Regions from separate parts of the Homo sapiens genome. Here all the other regions are linked to region 2. The links come from fine-mapping of genetic effects on gene expression. A gene starts in region 2. Each other region holds a variant in brackets. All regions are shown on one strand. Distances are from middle to middle. Region 1 overlaps WDR35 (WD repeat domain 35). Region 2 holds the start of LINC00954 (long intergenic non-protein coding RNA 954). Region 3 has its middle 12 kb from the start of TTC32. Region 4 holds the start of TTC32 (tetratricopeptide repeat domain 32).

What was found.
Region 1: its variant is fine-mapped to the expression of LINC00954 in monocytes (Schmiedel 2018, PIP 0.95).
Region 3: its variant is fine-mapped to the expression of LINC00954 in whole blood (TOPMed, PIP above 0.99).
Region 4: its variant is fine-mapped to the expression of LINC00954 in activated naive CD4 T cells (Schmiedel 2018, PIP 0.95).

Annotation. Positions count from the first base shown.
Region 1 is chr2:19,936,881-19,942,268 of GRCh38, forward strand. It overlaps WDR35 (WD repeat domain 35), which reads right to left. Exons shown (of 27, transcript NM_020779.4): 17 at 4,879-4,959; 18 at 1,385-1,521; 19 at 863-1,066. Among named protein-coding and RNA genes, the nearest start is that of TTC32, 38 kb to the left of the region's middle. The variant CA/C (reference allele first, on the strand shown) is at 3,309.
Region 2 is chr2:19,866,134-19,871,521 of GRCh38, forward strand. It overlaps LINC00954 (long intergenic non-protein coding RNA 954), which reads left to right and starts at 2,721. Exons shown (of 10, transcript NR_033875.1): 1 at 2,721-2,819; 2 at 3,363-3,480; 3 at 4,269-4,413. RefSeq lists an enhancer at 2,433-2,482.
Region 3 is chr2:19,887,115-19,892,502 of GRCh38, forward strand. No RefSeq gene overlaps it. Among named protein-coding and RNA genes, the nearest start is that of TTC32, 12 kb to the right of the region's middle. The variant A/C (reference allele first, on the strand shown) is at 2,896.
Region 4 is chr2:19,900,382-19,905,769 of GRCh38, forward strand. TTC32 (tetratricopeptide repeat domain 32) reads right to left here and starts at 1,602. Exons shown (of 3, transcript NM_001008237.3): 1 at 1,325-1,602. The coding sequence starts at 1,473. RefSeq lists enhancers at 563-1,444, 695-884, 1,025-1,084, 1,165-1,264, 1,445-2,325 and 1 more. The variant C/CA (reference allele first, on the strand shown) is at 2,884.

The sequences.
Region 1 (5,388 bases), 71 kb after region 2:
TAGCACCCCAAATGGTCTAAGATACCAGAACAGGGAAAAGAATGTTGTGCCTTTACTTTCCTGGACTTTCAATTTATTTAGCAAAATAATGATTTAAATAACAATCATTTCTTTTCAGCAATTTCTTAGATGTGATCAGGTTTATTTCAAAACAAAACACAGTGTTAACACATGTGGTTTTATATGACTTTTCAGAGCCTAAGTCATATTAGAGATCTCCTGGGAGTATAAATAACATTAATGAAGATGAGATACAATCTTAACAGCTGAAATGAAGTTCAGACAGACTCTCCGCCTTGTGGTTCAGTGGCTAAGATTATCTGCTTTCATAGCAGCTGCCTGGGTTTGATTCCTGGCCAGGGAGACAGGCCTTACAGTTCTTTAATTCAAAAGAAGAAATATTTATGAAGTTCATACATTATTTTATATAAATCAAAAACGAAATATAAAGAACTAATCTCGATCCCTAACGACTTCTGATTTTTATTTTATGCCTCTTGACAACATAAAATTAAATAATGGCCTAAACAAACAAAGAAAGAAAGAACTGGAATAATGAGCTATGTCTTAAATATAAAAGATCCCAGTCTCTGTTGTTCTATCATTTTTTCCCATCAAATGAAAAAAAAACCTCCCAGAGTCAGCCATTATTAGATGTAAAAACAGAGAAGAAAACTGCCTCCAGACTATGAAACACAAATGAATGAGAGGCATGTAGAATATCTAGGTTGTAATCCAAACTTAAAATTAATTTCTAAAAGGAACCATATGATACACCTAACGTATTTATAGTTTCCATTTGTAAAAAATACAATGATGAACTGATAGAGTACTCAGGGATGCCTGCGCCTTCATAACTTACCTTCTGTCCATCTCGAGATACGTTCTTTCAGCCTCTTCAAACCTGCCGAAGTAGCCAACAACTTCAGCCTGTTTCATTGACTCACTCAGTAGTTTGCCCAAGCGCTTCACAAACTTAATGCCTTGGTAATCTTTGCAGCGCACAAATGCTTGCTCTGCAGTGTATAGATCCAGTTTCTGAAGAGCTGCTTCAGCCAGTAGGCGCCTTTATTTTAAAAGAAACAAAAACATAAGTGCATATTGCAAATTACTGACAAACTAGTCTTGAATCACAATTCAATTATCATTTATGTCTATTATTTCTAGAGAAACATGGTGGAAAGTAACATATGCAAACATTTTTCAAATAATTTTCTGCTTATTTTGAGGACTTCCAAATCTAAATGAATTTCTACATCTTAAAAAGAAGAGCAAGAATGGAAGTCTGCTCCCATCAGGAGGATAGTAGGGGAGCAGAGGGACAAAACTGAGACTTTAAAAACCTACACCTGACATCCTGGGAGAGTTTGCTTTTTTTAAATACCAAAGTCGGGGGTGTGGATTGTCCTCTATGAACTGAGATGCATCTTTAATTCCAACCTTCTCAATCAGTGCTCGGCTATCTCGCAGAGACCGAATCTCAAAGTTAATTAGGTAATCCTTGTTTGGATGTTCTGGATCCTAAAAGTAAAGATGAAAACAAAAAAATTCAAATATTTGCCGTTAGAGTATGTGTTTCTTTTTTATATTAAAAACCAGAACAAAACAAAACAAGAAAAAAAACGGCATCATATTGTGAGCAAAATAAGGAAGAGAAATCTTCACGTTTGGGTCTTTTGAGTTATCTGGAAAACACCAAAACCCACAAGTAAGTACCTCTGAGGCAATCAGGCGGCCTATGAGGAAAAGGGGACAGAGGAAAATGGCAGAAGGGGTCCCTCACAGTTATGCATCCCTGTTTCCCTCTGCTCAGATTGGTTTTTCACCTTAAATGAGATAACATGTCTCAAAGATTCAGCACAATGCCTAGCTGTACTATTTACGGTATTCAATATTCATCATCTCAGAACTGACCTAATGCTCTCCTGCTTCAGAATTTTGAACAGGTGTACCATCCTGACTGAATCACAGCACCCCTAACTCTTTTCTGGCAACTGAATTACTTATCCATCTCCTCAACTCCTCTACCTGAGGCCAAGAACTGTGTCTTATTGGCTGTTAATTAATAGTTGCTGAATTAATGAATAGATGAACTTTAGGTAAATCATTTTACCACTGAGAGCCTTCTTTATCTAAAAAACTTCACAAAATTCAATATAATCATCAATTACAGCAACAACACCACAGGCATTTTCACACATTCTAGAGCTTAAGGCAATCGGAAATTATGAGCCTTTCTTGAAAAACACTACTAACAATGAAATCCAGCCAACTAAAAGATTAATCAAAATTAAGAACTTACGTAAGGAGAAAATGTAGTAAAAAGCCTGGCTAATAGCTTTGAATTCATTTAACTATTAAGACTAAACAACTGGAAATTAGGATTACAAGACGAAATTTAAATGTTCTAAATCTTGACAATGTAAAAATAATATATCTACAAAAGGAGAAAAAGAAGAAAATGTAAGAATGTTATCTTTTAGAGTAGAAAGACAATACTATTAAAAATTAAAATATAATTTAAACTAATAACTACCTGGTTTTTCATAATTTTTCTTCTCAACCCAGGAAAATGGTATTCTTTGCAGTGGAAAAATATTATCTAAAAGTCTAGAATTCCTTTAAACTCACTTTCAGGTTATCTAATTAAATTAACACTAAAAAAGTAGATTGTACAATGATGTCATTTTTATAAAATTACTTCTGTTCATCTATCTAAATCTATCAAATCCATATTTCCATATATAACTTGCAGCTGTAAGGAATGATGTTCTGATGTTTAACGGTAGTGACTAAAATATCTGAGTTGTGGGATTTAGGGTTTTTTTTTAACTTGTTTCAGTACTTTTCTGTTTTGCTTGAATTCTATATAATTCTGCCATTTGTTTAAAAGCAGTAAAGTATTCATTTTTAAAAATCAATTTAACCAACACTTTCTGAAAACCAACTCTGTATCAGATCCTTGCTAAATGTTAGGGATTCAAGAAGCTCACTCTTTATCAAACCATTAAATATATAAAAGCAGACAAAATATTTCAGTCACCTTAGTTTGATTCTACCCACTTATGACTGTCTTTTTAAAGGGCCCTGGAAGAACCACATATTCAAAATAAAAAAAAAAGAAATAAATAAATAATGTCTTCTTTCCCTAAATCTCTTGGGAAAGAAGACAAGCAGAAAGACATCTTCTGGCTGGGCATGGTGGCTCACGCCTGTAATCCTAACATTTTGGGAGGGCAAAATGAGAGTTTCACTTGAGCCCAGGAGTTCAAGACCACCCTTGACCAACATGGCAAACCCCATCTCTA[CA/C]AAAAAAAAAAAAAAAAAACACAAAAAATTAGCCAAGCATGGCGGCCTGTGCCTGGGACCCCAGCTACTCAGGAGGCTGAGATGGGAGGATCACTTGAGCCTGGGGGGCAGAGGCTACAGTGAGCCATGATGGCACCACTGCACTCCAGCCTGGGCAACAGAGAGAAACCCTGCTGAAAAAAAAACAATAGATATCTTTCTTCACACGTGTGGAAAAGGAAAAAATATTATCTGGTGGTACTGTATTCAAGTTAAACGGGCAATGAAATAAGTTCATTAGTTTTACAAGTCATATACCTTAAACAAGGACAAGAAAAGTGCTATCCATATACAGAAGAGTCAGATAGTCAAATCTGGAGGTTACATAATCCTAGGTAATAACAGCCCAGACTCCATTTTTGATGGTTGGCTGCTGACAGCTTTTAAACCTCACCTCTCCCTCTTCCCCTCTGCCTCACATGGGGCAAGCTAATGAGAAAGCCCAGATGCTTCTTCCTTTGGGGCACCAGTGAGTTTCAAACCACATAAGCCCCTATCCATTAAAAGCCTCACCCCAGACCCACTCCCTAACTACTAAACAACAAAACAACAACAAAAACACCCTCAAGCCAGTCTCCTTTCCCTGTGCTGTCCAGCCATTTCTGACAGCTTGGGAAGCCTGCCCTTCTCTCCCCTAAAAGTTTCATTATGGAAGATACATTCCTGGTGTCCCTATGGTATCATCAATCTTTACATCCAAACCAAATTTTGGGTGGGGGCCCATCCCATTGCTGCATGGTGGTTATGATATAGAAAATGAAACTGGCTCACAATAAAATAGCCATAATTTACATATCAAACCCAAATATGATTTACATATCAAACCCAAACCTGTTCCAAATTGCCACTAACTTCTGGAAATTTTAAATCTACTATCTCAATTCAAAAACTATATATATATTACATAGAAAAAGTTAATGCTTTGGCTAAAATGAAGGTAAAACTTCTCTCAGTATATTCTTAGAGAAAAAAAATTCTCAAAGGATGGTCAATGTAGGCCAATGCAGGGGTTCAAAATCATGTCTTGAATTTAAAAAGAGAAAAAAGGATTATTTTACAAAACCTGGAAAAAATGGAAAGATAGATCTCTAAAAAAAAGTTACTCAAGTATCTTAGAACTAGAAAAAGGCTAAACTCTTAAATATTTCTTCAGTACCTCGTTATTACTACAAAAACAATGACAACAATTAGCACTCATTTTTTTTAGCTCTCACTTGGCCGTAGCATTGTGCTAATTGCTTTTCACACATTATCTTATATAATAACAATCCTATAAGTAGTATTATTATCTGTATTTTATAAAGGCAATAACTGAGACTTATACATTTTTATCATCATTTTACAGGAAAGTAAAGTGAAGCTCAAAAAGATGGTGGCACCCACCTAAAGGCTGAACAATAAGAGAGCAGGGCTGGGCCTGAGATATATCTGACTCCTGGGTCCACACTGCTAACCAGGATACTACACCGCCTGGTCCAGAAATAATCCCCTGTCAAGCTAGCAACAGAAATGTAACTTTTTAGGAATTACCTTTAATATCTCATCCAAAAGAACAGATTTAATTTCTAAATCCTCAAAATTACAAATATATCCAGAGGTCTGAATGGGTTCCTTTAAAGACAAAAAAAAAGTTATGTTTCATTATGCAAAATTTCCTCTCTTTTAACAAATCATGCTTTTAAATTTTATTATCAGAGTTTTCAGGTAAACAAAAGAGAGAATGTCATTAACACCCATATACCCATAACCTAAATAATTAGCATTATGGTAAATATGCTTCCTTTAACTTCTTGGCTGAAGTATTGTAAAGTAAATACAGTAAATTACGGACATCATGATATTTTATCCCTAAATACTGCAGTACATATCTTTAAAACATAAGAATTTTCTCTTACATGGCCACATTACTATGATCACACCTTACATAATTAATGTTAATTCCCTAATAGCATGTAATATTCAGTCCAATTTTCTCAATTAATAAAAAGTCATATAGCTTGAAAATTCTAATTCATGCAATTCAATATTAAAGTTAATTCT
Region 2 (5,388 bases):
TATTTTAAATGAATTCAAATGAGAAATTCAGTTCCTCAGTAACACTGGTGACACTTCAAGTGTTCAGTAGTTGCATATGCTAGTGTCTATCAGTGGACAAGCTAGCACTAGATCTTTTTGCAGAATCCTTAAATGAGACCATACCCAGCTATACAGCACTTAGAAATCCATGTCTTGGCCGGGCACAGTGGCTCACACCTGTAATTCCAGCACTTTGAGAGGCAGAGGTGGGTGGATCACCTGAGATTAGGAGTTCAAGACCACCCTGGCCAACACAGTGAAACCCCGACTCTACTATAAATACAAAAATCAGCCGGGCATGGTGGTGCCCACCTGTAATCCCAGCTACTCAGGAGGCTGAGGCAGGAGAATCACTGGAACCTGGGAGGCTGAGGCTGCAGTGAGCCAAGATTGCGCCACTGCACTCCAGCCTTGGCAACAGAGTGAGACTGTGTCTCAAAAAAGAAAAGAAATCCCTGTCTTTTCTTGTCCTGTCCAAGTACTCAGTTTCTACAGGCTTCATGTTATAGGGCGGTGTGTCCCAAATCCCTCTAGCTGATTTAGGGGTATGAGTAACAGTTAAAGCATCAAGAGAAGTAGCCACCAAATAGAAATGAAAGTATGGTGCCATTTCTGCTCATGTAGCCACTACCCCTAAAGAGGCAACACTTGTAAAGCATCCATGGAGTAAAACAAGTCTGCACATCTCAACAACTCAAGGGCACTAAGCAAAGACCATGGAGCTGCAGCAACAGGATGCTATTCAGACTGTTAGGAGGCCCACACATAACTCATTTGAGAGCACAAGGTTAATAAGTGGCAGAGCCAGAACTAGAGCCTAGGTCCTTGCACTCACGGTCTGAGCTCATCAGTGTGTGAGCTCACTTCACCCACTCCATTCCTACAGCTACAGAGTTCCCCGTGGAAGTCTCAGTTGCACACCAGAGAGGCATCTGGGGGAAAATGTTCCACCTGGTCTCATGGCCTAGGAGACAAAGAACCCTGGGTTAGGATCTCAACTCTGGACTTAGTAATGACCCTGAATAAGCCTGGGCCCTCATGTCCTTCCCACCTGCAAAATGGAGGCTGTATCCCTGTTCTAGGCCCTCTGCAACAAAGCATCACAAACTTGGTGACTTCAAACGACAGAAATTTATTCTCTCCCAGTTCCGGAGGCCAGAAATCTGACACCAACTTGTGGAAAGGGCCTCCAAAGCCTCGAGGAATCTTTCCTGGCCTCTTCCAGCTTCTGGTGAATGCAGGTGTTCCTTGGCTTGCGGCAGCAGAACTCCAGTCTCTGCTTCTGTCTTCACATCACTGCTGTCCACTCTTCTATCCCAAGTCTCCTTCTGCCTTTCTCTTAAAAGAACACTTACATTGGATTTAGGATCCACCCAGATGATCCAGGATGAACTCTTCTTCTCAGACTCCCAATTACTTCTGCAAAGGCTATGTTTCCAAATAAGGTCACATTCACAGGTTCTAAAGGTTAGGTAATGAACATATCTTTGTGGCAGAATTGGGGTGGAGGGGAGCGGAGGGAGGCTCACGGTTCAACCCATGGTAAGGAGTTTGGACCACGTGAATTCCAGGTCTCACTCAGCTCTGAAAACATACAAAAATGGCAAAGGGCAACTATCTCTACCACATAAAGAATACATCCAAGTGCCTCAGGTCAACATCAACATCCCAAGAAGTAAATGGACAGTTCACACATACAATTAGAAGATGCTCTAATTAGCAAGCAGACACACGTGGGAGTTTTGCCTTTCTAACGTCAGAGAGATGCAAACTAAAAAATTTGTTTAATCTCAGAAAACTAAAACCAAATGCTGGCAAGGATGTGATGGAACTGAGACTTAAACATGGATCTGCCATTTATTCCCTGGGACTGGCTCAGGGTAGGCACTTATTGATTTGACTTGCCGATGGATGGTTAATTGGCAAAACTCTTTGGGGGGAAACTGTGGCAACATATTCCAAGAACCTTGAAAATAAAGATGGCTATTGGCTGAAAATTCCTCATCTGTACTGAGAATTTATCCTAAGGAAATCATCCTTGTGAACAAATATTTGTCTCAGCATTATTTATAACATCTAAATAGTGCAAACAACCTAAGCCTTCAAGAGAATGGGAACAATTCTGCACAGAAGTTCCGCAGCCGTGAAAGTGATGTTAAAACCGGGAGAACAGATAAGGCTAGTTGAATAAATCGGGACCACTGAGGAGGAGGCAGGGGAGGTTTAGGGGTGCCAGCAATACTTCGCTGTGGGTGATCAAGAACATGATGTGATTGCTGTAGAATCACTTCCTTAAACTGTGCATTTGTATTATGTATTTTTTATGCTTAAAACACATTTTAAGAAAAACCGAAGATTTTATTTTTTCTTTTTAACAGCTGAATCCAAGAATCCTAGGACACTCTTAATTTGTCCCAGAAGTGTGAAGTCCACCTAGGGCATAGCCGTGAAGGGCTCCCAGAACTGTACGGGGAATTTTGAGGCTGGGGTACCGCAGTGAAGTGCAGCTCACCCGGGCGGAGCGCACCTGACCTGGCTTCCACACCTGGTGGAGCGCCTGGGAGGCCTCGCGGATAAAGCCCCGGGCAGCGCGTGACCCGCCCCAGCCCAGTAGTGGAGTCCCCGCCGCGGGCCCCTTGCTTGCAGGGTAGGTGTGGCCCGGTCGTCCCACTCTCCGCCCCCTCCTGCTCCTCCTCGCCGTGCCCAACCCGCCCGCTTCTCCTGCCTAGGCTCTTCTTTCTGCTCCTGTCGCCATGGCCCCGGCCTCGGCGCTCAAGCGACCCTCTCGCTCCGCCCAGGTCAGTGAAGGATGGGATGCAAGTGCCCGCCAAGCCCCCCGTTTCCCACGTGGAGTTCCCACAGGGCAGCAGGGAGGGGCCGCGCCTTCTCTAACTGACCCGAACCGACCCGGGCTTCACAGGCTTCGTGGAGAGCAGCTGCCCCGCCGGCATCTTCCGGATGAGGCTCTCTAGACAACAAAGCCTTCTACGCGGAAGTTACTGGTGACAGGGGAAGGACTCATGGGTTTTTGCAGCCCGGTGTCCCCAAAACAACCTCCTGACCCCCAGCCCACCCAGGTTCCCTGCTAGCCCGCCCAACCCAGAAAGACTGGCCTGCCTGGGGTCCAGCAAGGATACAGAATCGCGCAGCTGCCCCCCACAGCCTGCCGCCCAGCATCGGTTCTCCCACCCATCTGCCTGTCCCCACCCGCTATGAGACGCCCTGGGTCTGCTTCCCTGGGACCAGCCCTCAGCGTTGCCTTAAGTGATTCTGGTGCCAGGGACTCTGAGGACCCCCAGGCTCCTCCAGGCTGGCAGGTGACCATACTCCTTCCACTGCAGACCCCTGGATGCCCAGCTGCCGCACCTCCCGTGGCCCCACGCTGTGGCTACGTGTTGTCTGAAGACGCCTGGGGAAACCTTCAGGGCCTCTGTACTGGCCTGTCATGTGGTCAACCAGGTGAGCAAGCTTCTGAGATGCCCTTGTTCAATTGCCCAGGAAACAGGTGTCCAAGATTCATATGGAAGAAATCTGGCCCTGCCCTCAGCACTGAGGACATTTGGGGAATCCAGCATCCCCTCCTGGATGCAGATCGCTTCCGCCTGGCACAGGCTGTCTTCACAGCTGCAGAGTCCTCTTGTGTCTAAGAACAGAGACCACAGTTCCATCTTTGCCTTGCCAGGATTGACCTCTAATGAATAGATCACCTTTGTAAGGTGGACCAAAAAAAAAAAAAAAAAGAGCATTTCCAGGTGGCTGTAACTGACAGCTGGGAACTGCCAGAGTGTGGCAGGAGGCCCAAAGCTGTAGGAGTTTAGAGGAAGCCGCATGCAGGCACCTTGCGCTCAGATGAGGCATGGGGTAGAACTGCAGATGAGAGCAATCAGAAGGAGACTCGTGGGATAGCAGGGTTTAACCTGGCTACGATGTCAGCAAGGTGGACGGGGAGACTGGGGCCCCAGCTATGCCTGGATTTAGGGGTTCAAAGGTATAGGGAGCTAGCAGGAGCACTTCAACAGAACAGAGGTGAGATTAGTGTCAGATCACTAAATCCTAAGTCTCTTCTGTGCATCTCTACCTGCTCTATTTCATCATGCTCCCTTCCCTGCACACCTCCAGCCGTCTGTCTACTAACAAGAGACCCGTACCTCAGTCCCACTGAGCCAGGTGGGACTGGGCCAAACCTCCCTATTTGATTCTTGCCTCATCTTCCCTGGGACTTCGGTGCTTTCTTGCCCTTCTTCCAGGATAATAGATGGTTTTCCCTCAGTGTGAACATCGAGGTGTCTGGGTTCATGGAAGCTGGTGAAGAAACCACCTACAACTATACCATGTCCTGTCCCTATTTCACATGGGCCTCGAGGAAGATTCTCTGAAGGGAACTACATGGAGGTGAGCACAGGTAACCCCAGCCAGAATGCTGGGTCTCCTGGGGCCGAAACTACCTCCTTCGTTCTATGAAGTGAGGCCACACTTGATATTTTCATGGAACCAAGTCCCTTAGTACTTAAGCCTTATCAGCCATGAAATAGACCCTTTTCGGGAAACAAGATTTGATTAAGTTGAAAGGAAATCAGAATGTCAGCGATCTCTGCACTCCTATGGTCATTGCAGCACTATTCACAATGATATAGAATCCACCTAAGTCCCTCTCAGTCCCTCAGTTGGATGAATGGATAAAATGTGAAATAGATTAGATACACACACACACACACACACACACACACAGGAATACCATTCAGCCACTTTTAAAAAATGAAATCCTGTCCCTTGCAGCAACGTGGATGAACCTGGAGGTCATTATGTTAAGTGAAACAAGCCGGGCACGGAAAGACAAATACCACGTGACCCCACTCATTTGTGGAATCTGAAAAAGCTGATCTCAGAAGTAGAGACTATAGAATAGTGGTTCCAGGTAGCTGGGAAGTGTAGGAGAGATAGGTTAAAAGGTACAAAATTCCAGTTAGGAGGAATAAGTTTTAATGTTCTATTGTACAGTAGGGTGACTATGGTTAACAATAGTATATTGTATATTTATCATATTTATAATTTATATTGTATATTTATAAGAGGATTTTGAATGCTCTTACCACAAAGAAATGATAAAGGTTTGAGGTGATGGATACGCATTACCCCGATTGGATCATTACACATTGTAAACATCACACTGTATCCCATAAATATGTACAGTTATTATGAGTCAATTAAAAATACAACTTCAAATCTTGATTTAGGTTGGCAGGTAAGGAACAGAGGCCTAAAGGTAGGTGGGCTGTACACAGTCATCATCCAACCACGTGGCTCATTGCTGTTGCCTTGGGCTCAGAAGTAGCATCAAAGCTGGTGCCCCAACCAGGCCCTCGGCCC
Region 3 (5,388 bases), 21 kb after region 2:
GTGATTAGGTCTATGTCCCTCATCCCAACATTCTTTATGCCAGCTTTCATTCCCACAGCTCCAGCTGGAGACATGCACCCACAACTTAGCAGTGCCTTGGGGTGTCCTGTCTACTGCAGGACGTCTTCAGTGCCCATAACGTTCTTCTCCAAATTAGGTTTCTGAGCCTTTGCATATTACATCACAGGGCTGGGCCCATGGGACTGCAATCCGGGAGGATGGTCCTAGGCACAAAATTGAATCTTGAGATAGGTCTAAGGTTTGCCATCAGGATTAATGAAAATAAGTGTACACCGGGGCATGCTTCACTAACTGGAAGTCACTATTATTAAACTGAGAACCGGAAGGGCTAGATCTGGTCATAATTCTGTTAACCAACTGCATAACCTTTAAGCCGGAACCTTTACCTGTAAAATAAAGGAGTAGATGATTTCTCCAGTTCCTTCCCGCTCAAGTGTCCTATGACTGATTAAAATTATGTGTCCATTAAGCAGCTCAAAAGGAATTATGTCTGGCTATCTGAAAGCTCACAGCCAGCCAAGGAGGAAGTGCACTAAAGGCGAGGCCCGGCTGCTCCCCAGCCCAGCACTGCTCGCTGCTGTGTTAATTGACAATGATGGAACAAAGCACATTTTATGAGAGTTCATGAGTAGGAAGTCCAAGGAGCCTATACATTAGTCACGTCTGAAAATCTTCCTTGCTGGTCCTGCAAGCCAGAGGAGCTGGCCACTGCCACTTACCCAGATGAAGGACATGTCGATCCAGAAAAGGGAACAGTTAGCCAACATTGCTTTATTTGCTCAATCGTAATAACTTTTTCCAGGGAGAAAACCCACGTAAAACTATTGGAGACAGAATTCTGGATCAAGTCAGGCCACAACATAAAATTACATGGTAACAATGGTCTCCAATTTGAGAGAAGCAGCATAATGCACCCCAACCTCCCACAAAAACCTCAAACCCTTGACTCGGGAAAACAAGAAGGTCATCTTCCATCGGCCCTTTCCTCCACTGTCCTTCTCCCCAGACTCCCTTGTGCTTGTATAGGGCAGGGAGGGGTAAGGAAAACAGATCAGTTGCCCTGGGACGTCAATCACCCTGTTGAAACTGGTCTGAGTGCCAGACAGACAACCAACATGGCTCCTGCCTTCAGGGTCCACATCTTGAAGAGGGAGAGGAACACAGGAAATGGAAAAGCACCCTGGAATTAGATGCTGGGCCAGATGAACTGGAAGTAGTTCTTAAACTTGAGTGTGCCTCAGACTCCCCAGGGGCCTTGTTAAAACACAGATGGCTAGACCCTACCCCCAGGGAGCTAGATTCACTTGGCTTGGGGTAGGGCTGATATTTTGCATTTCTAACATGGTCCTAGGTGCTGCTGGTCCATAGACCATGTGCTGAGAACCAGTACTACAGACAGTGCTCCCCATACTTTAGTGTGCGTATGAACCGCCTGGGGGCCTGGGTAAAGTGTGAGCTCTGATTCAGCAGGTCTGGTACAGGGCTAGGGATCTGCATTTCTAACAAGCTCCCAGGTGATGCCAATGCTGCCGGTCTGTGGTCCCCATTCAGTAGCAAGGGTGCTCCATCTAGACCAGAGTGTGATGGAAGTTAGAGAATGAGATGAGTTTGGGTTGATATTGGCAGGGAAGGTTTAATGGTAGTTACTGGGACTTGGGCTGGTCCCAGAAGAATGAGCAGGATTTAAATAAATGAAAAGGCTGTATTCTGGGAGAGAAATTTGAACACAGACAGGGCGGTGGGATTGAGAATAGCAAGGGTAGAGGAGTGGGCACTGGCCATTGTCACAGATGAGTGACACACCGAGGCTTGGGGCCCTGCATGCAGGCGCCTTGCTCCATCTGCCTCCACACCACCCTCCCCAAGCAAGAAGCTGGTGCAGTTCCAGTAAGTCTACTGGCAGCCAGTCTTCATAATGGAAATAATTATTGTTCTGTGAGTCCCAGACTGACAGCTCCCAATCCTGCCTGCTCAGCCAACTGGGTTATTTTTTCACCTGGCTTGTTAGCAATGGTTTGTTGTTTGGCAGCATGAAGTGACTCCCACTTTTCCTTTCCAATCTCAAGTCAGAGAAACCTCAGTTCTCCGAGAGTTGAATGTCTCGAAGCCACACGGGGGTGGTTATGGATTTCTCAGCAGGCAGCCAGGGCAACCAGCATGTTCTATATGGTGCTCAGTCATGGGTTCCTCTCCTGATCCAGTGAGGGTCATGATCAGATAAAGGAGTAATAGCCCCTTCTTTCCCACACCCACCCCCCAACCTTGGAAGTCTTCCGTTTTCAGGTTTGTTCTAACAAAAGGCTCACCTTTTCTTCAATAGAGCTGCATGTGTAGGTGCAGAAACATGCGAGCTCATGTGCAAAAGGCCTGTCATTTGAAAATGAAACTACTATTTATTGGGTTTCCCAGCAGTGCTGTAACGAGGCACTACAAACTGAGTGGCTTATAACAACAGAAATTTATTTTCTCACAGTCCTGGAGACTGGGGAGTCCAAAATCAAGGTGTTGGCAAGGGCATGCTCCCTCTGAAGCCTCTAGGGCATGGACCTCACCCCTGGGGAGCTGGAAACCCTTCCTTGCTTTTTCCAGTTTCGGGTATCCCTGGGTGTTCCTTGGCTTGTGGCAGAACCACTCCAGTCTCCACCTCTGTCTTCACAAGCCGTTCTCCCCAGTGTCTGTGTCCAAATTTCCTTTTCCTTGTAAGGACATCAGTCACACAAGGTATCTGTAAGGACCCACCCTACTCCACCTGCATCTTCTTAACTAATTAGATCTGTCATAACTTTATTCCCAAATAAGGTCACATTCTGAGGTACTGGTAGTTAAAACTCCAACATATCTTTTTGGGGGGCCCAATTCAACTCCTAACAGGTA[A/C]CTTTATAGTTTATAACATTATATTACCTGCTGAATTTGACCTTGTCTTTTAGAGGGGCTTTTTCCTCTAAACTAGAATAGTGACCTGTTTTAAATAAAATCGATGCTGAACTATAAATCAGGCCCTATTCTCAAGGTCAGCTGAGAAGGGCTCAAACACTTATCCACCCCATACCTATTAGCCAGTGATGAATCTGTAAGCTCTAAATAGCAAGTTACTGAGCAGATTATGATAATGAATTCACTTATCCATTCAACACATGTAAGGCCCTTCTGCATGCCAGGCCGTGGTGCTGAGGACACAACAGTAAACAAAAGAGACAAAAGTCCCTGCCCTCTCAGAGCTTGCCTTCCAGTGTGGGAAAGACAAAATAAATAAGAACATGGTTTGGGTAAACAGAAAAAAGATGAGTATGATGAGGATTTGCTATTTTAAAGAGAGCGGTCAGAGAAGGGCCAGGATAAGGCCATGGGGTAAGGCAGGGAGAAAACAGCACATGTAAGTTCCTCAACGTGAGTCTTTGTGAAGACTCTGCTTCTCACTGAGAGAAGCCATGGCACACTCCCAAACCTTCACTCTGGTGGCTGTGTTGAAACTGACTTTGGAGGTAAAACTGACAAAGCAGGATACTTGCAATACAGAGGGGCTGATGTCTTGGCTTTGGGTGGTAGCGGATGAGATGAAAATTGCTGGAATCGGGATCTGTTTCAAGGTAGGAACCCACAGTGTTTGCCGCTGGGGAGCACTGGGACCAAGTCTGGCATGAGAGGCGGGACAGTACAGCTGCCATTAGCTGTGCTGGGGGAGGACCAGGAACTCCGTTTGGGATGCTTTAAGTTTGCACAACATCAACTCTGTGATCTTAAAAAGAGCTTTCCAATAAAGTGGAAATAGGTTCAAATAACGTGGTGCCAAAAGAATACATTCAAAGGTATTCTTGGTACACAGGAGTCAAAATTGCCTAGAGGGAAAAGAGGCACTCAGGTGGTGAACACAACTAATAGTAATTTTTTCAAGAGGTGACTAGCAGCCATAGGAAAGGGAGCCTTTTAACCCTTTGTTTCTAGTTATTCTGGCTAAAAATGGTTAGCTGTAGAGAAAAATATGAAAGGCGGGGGGTCTTTTTATTTATACCTCCTGTACTGTTTTAATTTTTATTACCATAGCCATGTATTAATTGTATATCAAGAAATTGGCAAGCACTTTTCATGCGGCTTTAAAAATTATGTGTCAAAGCAGAATAAGGTAGACTTCTAAGTTCTTACACAAAAGAATGTTCAAAATAATAAGTGATTTAAGTTACCAAATAATATGTATACCATAATTCTGCGCATGTATCTGCATACCTGTGCCCATGTATTTGTACAAAGAAAAAGGCCTAGAAGGATAGACAGGAACTGCTTTTTACCTTATATTCTGCAGGTTTGCCACTTTTAAAAGGAGTACTTTTTGCATGTGTTTAAATTGAATGTGATGGCCTTCCCTCTACTTCGCTTCAGCCAGAGCTCAAGCCTCCACACACTCCAAACAAGAATTGTTGAATAGTTTAAAGAAATAGGCGGGCTGGGCACGGTAGCTCACGCCTGTAATCCCAGCACTTTGGAAGGACGAGGCAGGCAGATCATGAGGTCAGGAGTTTGAGACCAGCCTGACCAACGTGGTGAAACCCGGTATCTACTAAAAATACAAAAATGAGTTGGGCTTGGTGGCACATGCCTGTAATCCCAGCTACTCAGGAGGCTGAGGCAGGAGAATCCCTTGAAACCCAGGAGGTGGAGGTTGCAGTGAGCTGAGATCACGCCACTGCACTCTAGCCTGGGCAACAGAGCGAGACTCTGTCTCAAAAAAAAAAAATAAATAAGCAACAGAAAAAAAAACTGAAGCTTTTCAGTCCCCCTTGGCTCTTATTCCTGCTAGAAATAATGTGACTATGTAATAATAAATTCTACTTAAGGGTTGTATCAGTCTGTTTTCACACTGCTATAAGGAACTGCCCCAGTCTGGGTAATTTATAAAGGAAACAGGTTTAATTGACTCACAGTTCAGCATGGGTGGGAAGGCCACAGGAAACTTGCAATCACGGCAAAAGGGGAAGCAAGGCACCTTCCTCACAAGGCAGTAGGAAGAATGACAGAAGGAGGAACTTGCCAAACCCTTAAAAACCATCAGATCTCGTGAGAATTCACTCACTATCACGAGAACAGCATCGGGGAAACAGCTCCATGATTCAATTACCTCCACCTGGTCTCTCCCTTGACATGTGGGGATTATGGGGATTACAATTCAAGATGAGATTTTGGGTGGGGACACAGCCAAACCATACCAAGGGTTTTTTGTTGTTTCTTCAGTAGTAGGGCCAAAATGTTTTTTGAAGTTAAGCACGATTCTTATAAGAATATAGAATGAAAATGTGAAAAATGTTTAACTCATTAATAGAGAACCGCCAGAGTGGTAAAAGAGCATTAGAATAACTGAGTACTTATGGTCCATGA
Region 4 (5,388 bases), 34 kb after region 2:
GAAGGCAATTTTCTTTCTGGTTTAATTCCATGTAGCGTAACAAACAGGGTAAGAATCAAGTCCTTAGTGTTTAGTTAAGCCTCATACAAAAGACAAGCTGGCATCCTGTCCAGAAAACTCAAATCCACAACAGACAACTCACAACTATTCAAAAAGCTGTTCAACCAACCCCTCTGTTCTTTTCTCATCCTGATCCACTCCATACCATCAACAAGCCCAGTCGAGGCAAGACTTGGAGTAAAAACAAATGCTACACATCCAGGCACAAGCCGAAAAGATGCTTTGGGCAAGCAGACAGTAACAGGTGAAGCCGCTCACATCACAAAGAGAAAGTCAGCGAATCGTTATGTGCTTCCTGGTGAAAGTACACACACCCACCTAAAAAGTATTCTTGCCATGATATTGAATCTGAATTCAATTGGATCAAACCTCAAGGTTTAACCACCAATTCACAGCAATATGAGACAGATGACCACATTAAACGACAGAAGAGATTCAGTCAGCAAGTCCAAAACACGGAAATTCAAAGGACACAAGAATCGGTTTCCTCAACAAATAAAGAGGGGAAGGTGGAGAAGAGACTTAAAAAGACTTGATGTGTATCCTGACTTGAACTAACTGCGAAAAGGGAACCAAAGAACAAAACACCTTATTAGTCGATCAGAATGGTTCCAACACTGACGACTTGATATTAAGTAACTATGTGATGATGACATGGTGGTTCCTTCTGAAACATCCATGGATGAATACAATAGGTAAACTGATAATGCTTAAGCCAAGTGATAAACACCTAGACGTTCGTTATGCTCTCTTCCACATATTTAAACGTTTTTCACAAGTGAAAAACACCACCAAGAGCCTGCGCCGTGACACTGAGATGGGAGTCGCGGTACTGTGGCCCTACGCAGCCGTGACCCCTTCCCTTCCCAGGTCGCGGATTTCCCGCCAGCTAAAATCACGAGTGGAAAATTCCTATCTGTCCTAAGTCTCTGGGTGCGAATGAGGAACGTGGAAGGAGAGACGGCGGGGTGAGAGGCGGCGGCCCGCGCCCGAGGATCGCGCAGAGGGCTTGGTTCCCGGAAATCTCTCCGCACCGTCGCGGCAGCTGGCTCCTCACGGGTGGGCTTCTCCCCGCGTTCTCCGCCGCCCTCGTCCTAGGCCTCGCCTAGGCCTTTCTAGAAAGACGAACGTCCGCCCGCTCAGTCCTAGTGCTGGGTTATGACAAGCGCCGACCGTGAGCTCCAGAGGCAAAGATAGGAGCCCAAACAACCCCAACGTCGCCTCCACCCGGGGTCGCCGCGGCCCCAGGTCTCGCGATAGTTACCTCCCGGGACTCTCGTCGCTGGAGGCCGCGCAAGCGCACCGGCGAATGTAAGCGGAGTACAGTGCCTCGGCCTCCGCGTACTCTCCATTGTTGAAATGAGCCTGGGCGAGTGTTAGGGTTGCGTGGCTTTCTTGCCGCTGTCCTTCCATAGCAGCCAAGGCCTAGTTTTCGGTGTAGAATGGGGGTTGACCTCCGAGCGGTTAGAGGTGGCACCACAAAGCCACTTCCACACCCTGGAATCTACCTTGACAGCCAACCTTGGCGCTAGGTTTGTGCCTTATGGGGATCCGTCGTCTCGCGAGATAACGGTTCCGCTGCTGGCGGGGCGTTTGCAGTGGCCCTTGTGAACTATGTTTCTGCCGTTACCAGTGTTGGACCCGCCTTCCTCTTTTCCTAGAAAAGGCGCAGATGCGTGGTCGCAAACTGATTTCCAAGTCCGTTGTCTGATGCTGCGAGACACTATCCGTTTGTTACAGCGAATTGGGGGCCGATGACGCTGGAGGTGGAAGAAGCCGCGGTTCTGTTTCTTAATGGCGAATTAGCCTGCGGACGTCCTGTCATTCCCTTGCCTTTTAGCGTCCCAACTTAGCAAAACTCCGCGTTTAGGGTGTTCTGAGTAGGCTTTGTCTACCCTGAAACGCTTTGTGTCGACATTCCACCAGGTCTGTTCCACGGTCCAAACTTCTCTACCTTTTTTGACCCTCTAGAATTGTGTTACGATTAGTAGTATATTGTGTCGAGAGTCTGGGATCTTTGATGTTAGTTATATTCCCTGGCTGTTTATGCCAAAGGGAAATCCAAATAGTAATTTATTACGTACATTACGTATAATTCAAATTAAAATTTTGTAAGAACAGTTGCCAACCACGCTACCCTACATGCCTGCTGTGTATCTTCTCGGCGTCCCTCGATTCTGTTTTGCTTCCCAAAGTACTTGAGCCCTTTCCGTCATAAAAAGTAAAGATGAAAAATATATTTGGAGCATGATACTTACATGCGGAAGTCTTAACAGGACATAAATTGTGTGCTTTTGGCTGCTTTCATTAGATTTTTAATTTTTTCCTTTTACCACCACTGAAAAAAATACAAATACAGTGGATTAAGGTTAAATTAAAAAGCACTAGTAGAAATTAAAAGATTGCAAGACTACAAAAAAATAAACTGGCATTTCTGGTGTAAGCAAATGGACAGCTCAATAGAACAAAAGCCCAGAAACATACCTCAAATAGGCTGTATTTTGTAAAAGACATGTAACATATATGGGGAAAGGACAGATTATTCAAATGAGTGCTATTGGGAGGATTAGTTAACCATTTGGGGAAAAATACATTTAAGCATTTAAGCTCCCAATTGACATAATATTCATTCCAGGTGAATTAAAAGATTAAATAAATAAGATAAAAAGCTTTTTTTTTTCAGTTCCCATTTATTTTTGCCTCTTGGAGCAATGTCATCTTTTCAATATGAAAAAAACAAAACAAAAAACAAATCTGAAGTACAGGATAGAACAAAACCAAGTGTGTTGGGGGAAGCAACAGCAAAGGGAAGACAAGATGTTG[C/CA]AAAAAAAAAAATGGAGGGGGGATTCCCCTCTCCTCTGGGGAATGACTCAAACACTGATGTGGCAGCGTACACTATTCTACATAAAGCCAGGGATGTTAATCCTTTTGGGGGATAAGAAAAAGTGGAGATGGCCAGGCTCTGTGGCTCATGCCTGTAATCCCAGCACTTTGGGAGGCCTAGGCGGGCAGATCACCTGAGGACAGGAGTTTGATAACAGCCTGGCCAACATGGCAAAACCCCGTCTCTACTAAAAATGCAAAAAATTAGCTGGGCGTGGTGGCGGGTGCCTGTAATCCCAGCTACTCATGAGGCTGAGGCACAAGAATCCCTTCTGGGTGGAAGTGGTTGGCAGTGAGCTAATTTTTGTATTTTTTGTGGTGATGGGTTTCCCCATGTTGTCCAGGCTGATCTCCAACTCCTGGGTTCAAGACATCTGCCCACCTCAGCCTCCCAAAGTGCTAGGACTACAGGCATGAGCCACCGCACCTGACTAGAAGTTTTGCTTTGTTCTGTTCAAGGAATAACAGGAATATTTATGTGTCTAAAAACCAGTGATCTAAGAGGAAAATAGCAGGATATGTAATGGAAATTGGGGATTTGGGAAGGGGGTTTCTAAATAGGAGTAAGATTCTTAACCTTTTTTGTGCTATGGCACCTTTACAAGTGTGGTGAAGCCTATGTCGTTTCAATGTTTTCAAGTGTTTTTAAAACATAGGATTACAAAGGAAAGGAATTATATTAAAAAACAGTTGGAATATTAACAGATTTATTAAAAAGTAAAACATTTATTAACATTAAATATCAAGAACAAATGGCAAACACAAAACTAGCAGAGGAAGAAAATAATAAAAGATCAAAACACAGATAAAACAAAAATGGAATCAACAAAACCAAAAGTTGGTTCTTAAAAAGATTAAAAAAGTTAATAAAACTTGAGCTAAATTGACTACGAAAAAGGAAAAGACTCAGATTACTAAAATCAGAAATGAAAATGGGAACATTACCATCAATTCTACAGAAATAAAGAGGATTATAAGAGAGTACTATGAACAATTGTATGCTGAAAAATGGGAGTAACTACATGAAATGAGCAAATGCCTAGAAACAAAAAACCTACGAAGATTGTATCATGAAGAAATAGAAAATATGAATAGACGTGTGTATTAGTCTGTTCTCACACTGCTAATAAAGACGTACCCAAGACTGGGTAATTTTTTTGTTTTTAAGAAAAAAGAGGTTTAATGGACTCACAGTTCCACGTGGATGGGGAGGCCTTATAATCATGGCAGAAGGCAAACAGCACGTCTTACATGGCAGCAGGCAAGAGAGAATGAGAGAACAGTGAAGGGGGAAATCCCTTATAAAACCATAAGATTTTGTGAGACTTAGTCACTACCATGAGAACAGTATGGGGGAAACTGCCCCCATGATTCAGTTTTTTCTCCCACCGGCTCCCTCCCACAACATGTGGGAATTATGGGAGCTACAATTCAAGATGAGATTTGGGTGAGGACACACACAAACCATATCAACCTGTAACTTGTAAGGAGATTCAATCAGTAATCTAAAAATAACCTCTTGACAAAGAAAAGCCCTGGACCTGATGGCTTCACTGATGAATTCTACTAAATGTTTAAGGAAGAACCAACACCAGTCCTTCTTAAGATTCCATTTAAAAAATGGTTATAACTAATGAATTCAGCAAGGTAGGAGGATATGAAATCAACATGCAAAAATCAGTTGCATTTTTATTCACTAACAATGAAGCTATCCAAAAATGAAATTAAGAAAACAATTCCAGCCAGGCACAGTGGCTCACACCTGTAATCCCAACATTTTTGGAGGCCAAGGTGGATGGATCACTTGAGGTCAGGAGTTCGAGACCAGCCTGGCCAACATGGCAAAACCCTGTATCTACGAAAAATACAAAATTTAGCCAGGTGTGGTGGCAGGCACCTGTAATCCCAGTTACTCAGGGGGTGAGGCAGGAGACTCACTTGAACCTGGGAAGTGGAGGTTGCAGGGAGCCAAGATTGTGCCTTGCACCACTGCACTCCAGCCTGGGCAACAGAGCAAGACTCTGTCTCAAAAAAAAAAAAAAGAAAGAAAAGAAAACAATTCCATCTACAGTAACATCAAAAAGAAAAAAATATTTAGGAATTAATCAAGAAAGTAAAAGATGTGTACAATTAAAACTATAAAACATTGCTAAAAGAAATTGAAGAAGACATAAATGGAAAGACATCTCATGTACATGGATTAGAAGACTTAATATTGTTTAGATGTTAATATTATATAAATCAATCTTCAGATTCTATGGAATCCTTATCAAAATCCCAATGATGTTTCTGCAGAAATAGAAAACTCCATCCTCAAATTCATATGGAATTACAAGGACTCCCAAATAGCCAAAACAATTTTGGAAAAAGAACAAAGTTTAAGGACTCACTTCCTGATTTCAAAACTTACTGCAAAGCTGCATTACCCAAAACAAGTGTGTTATT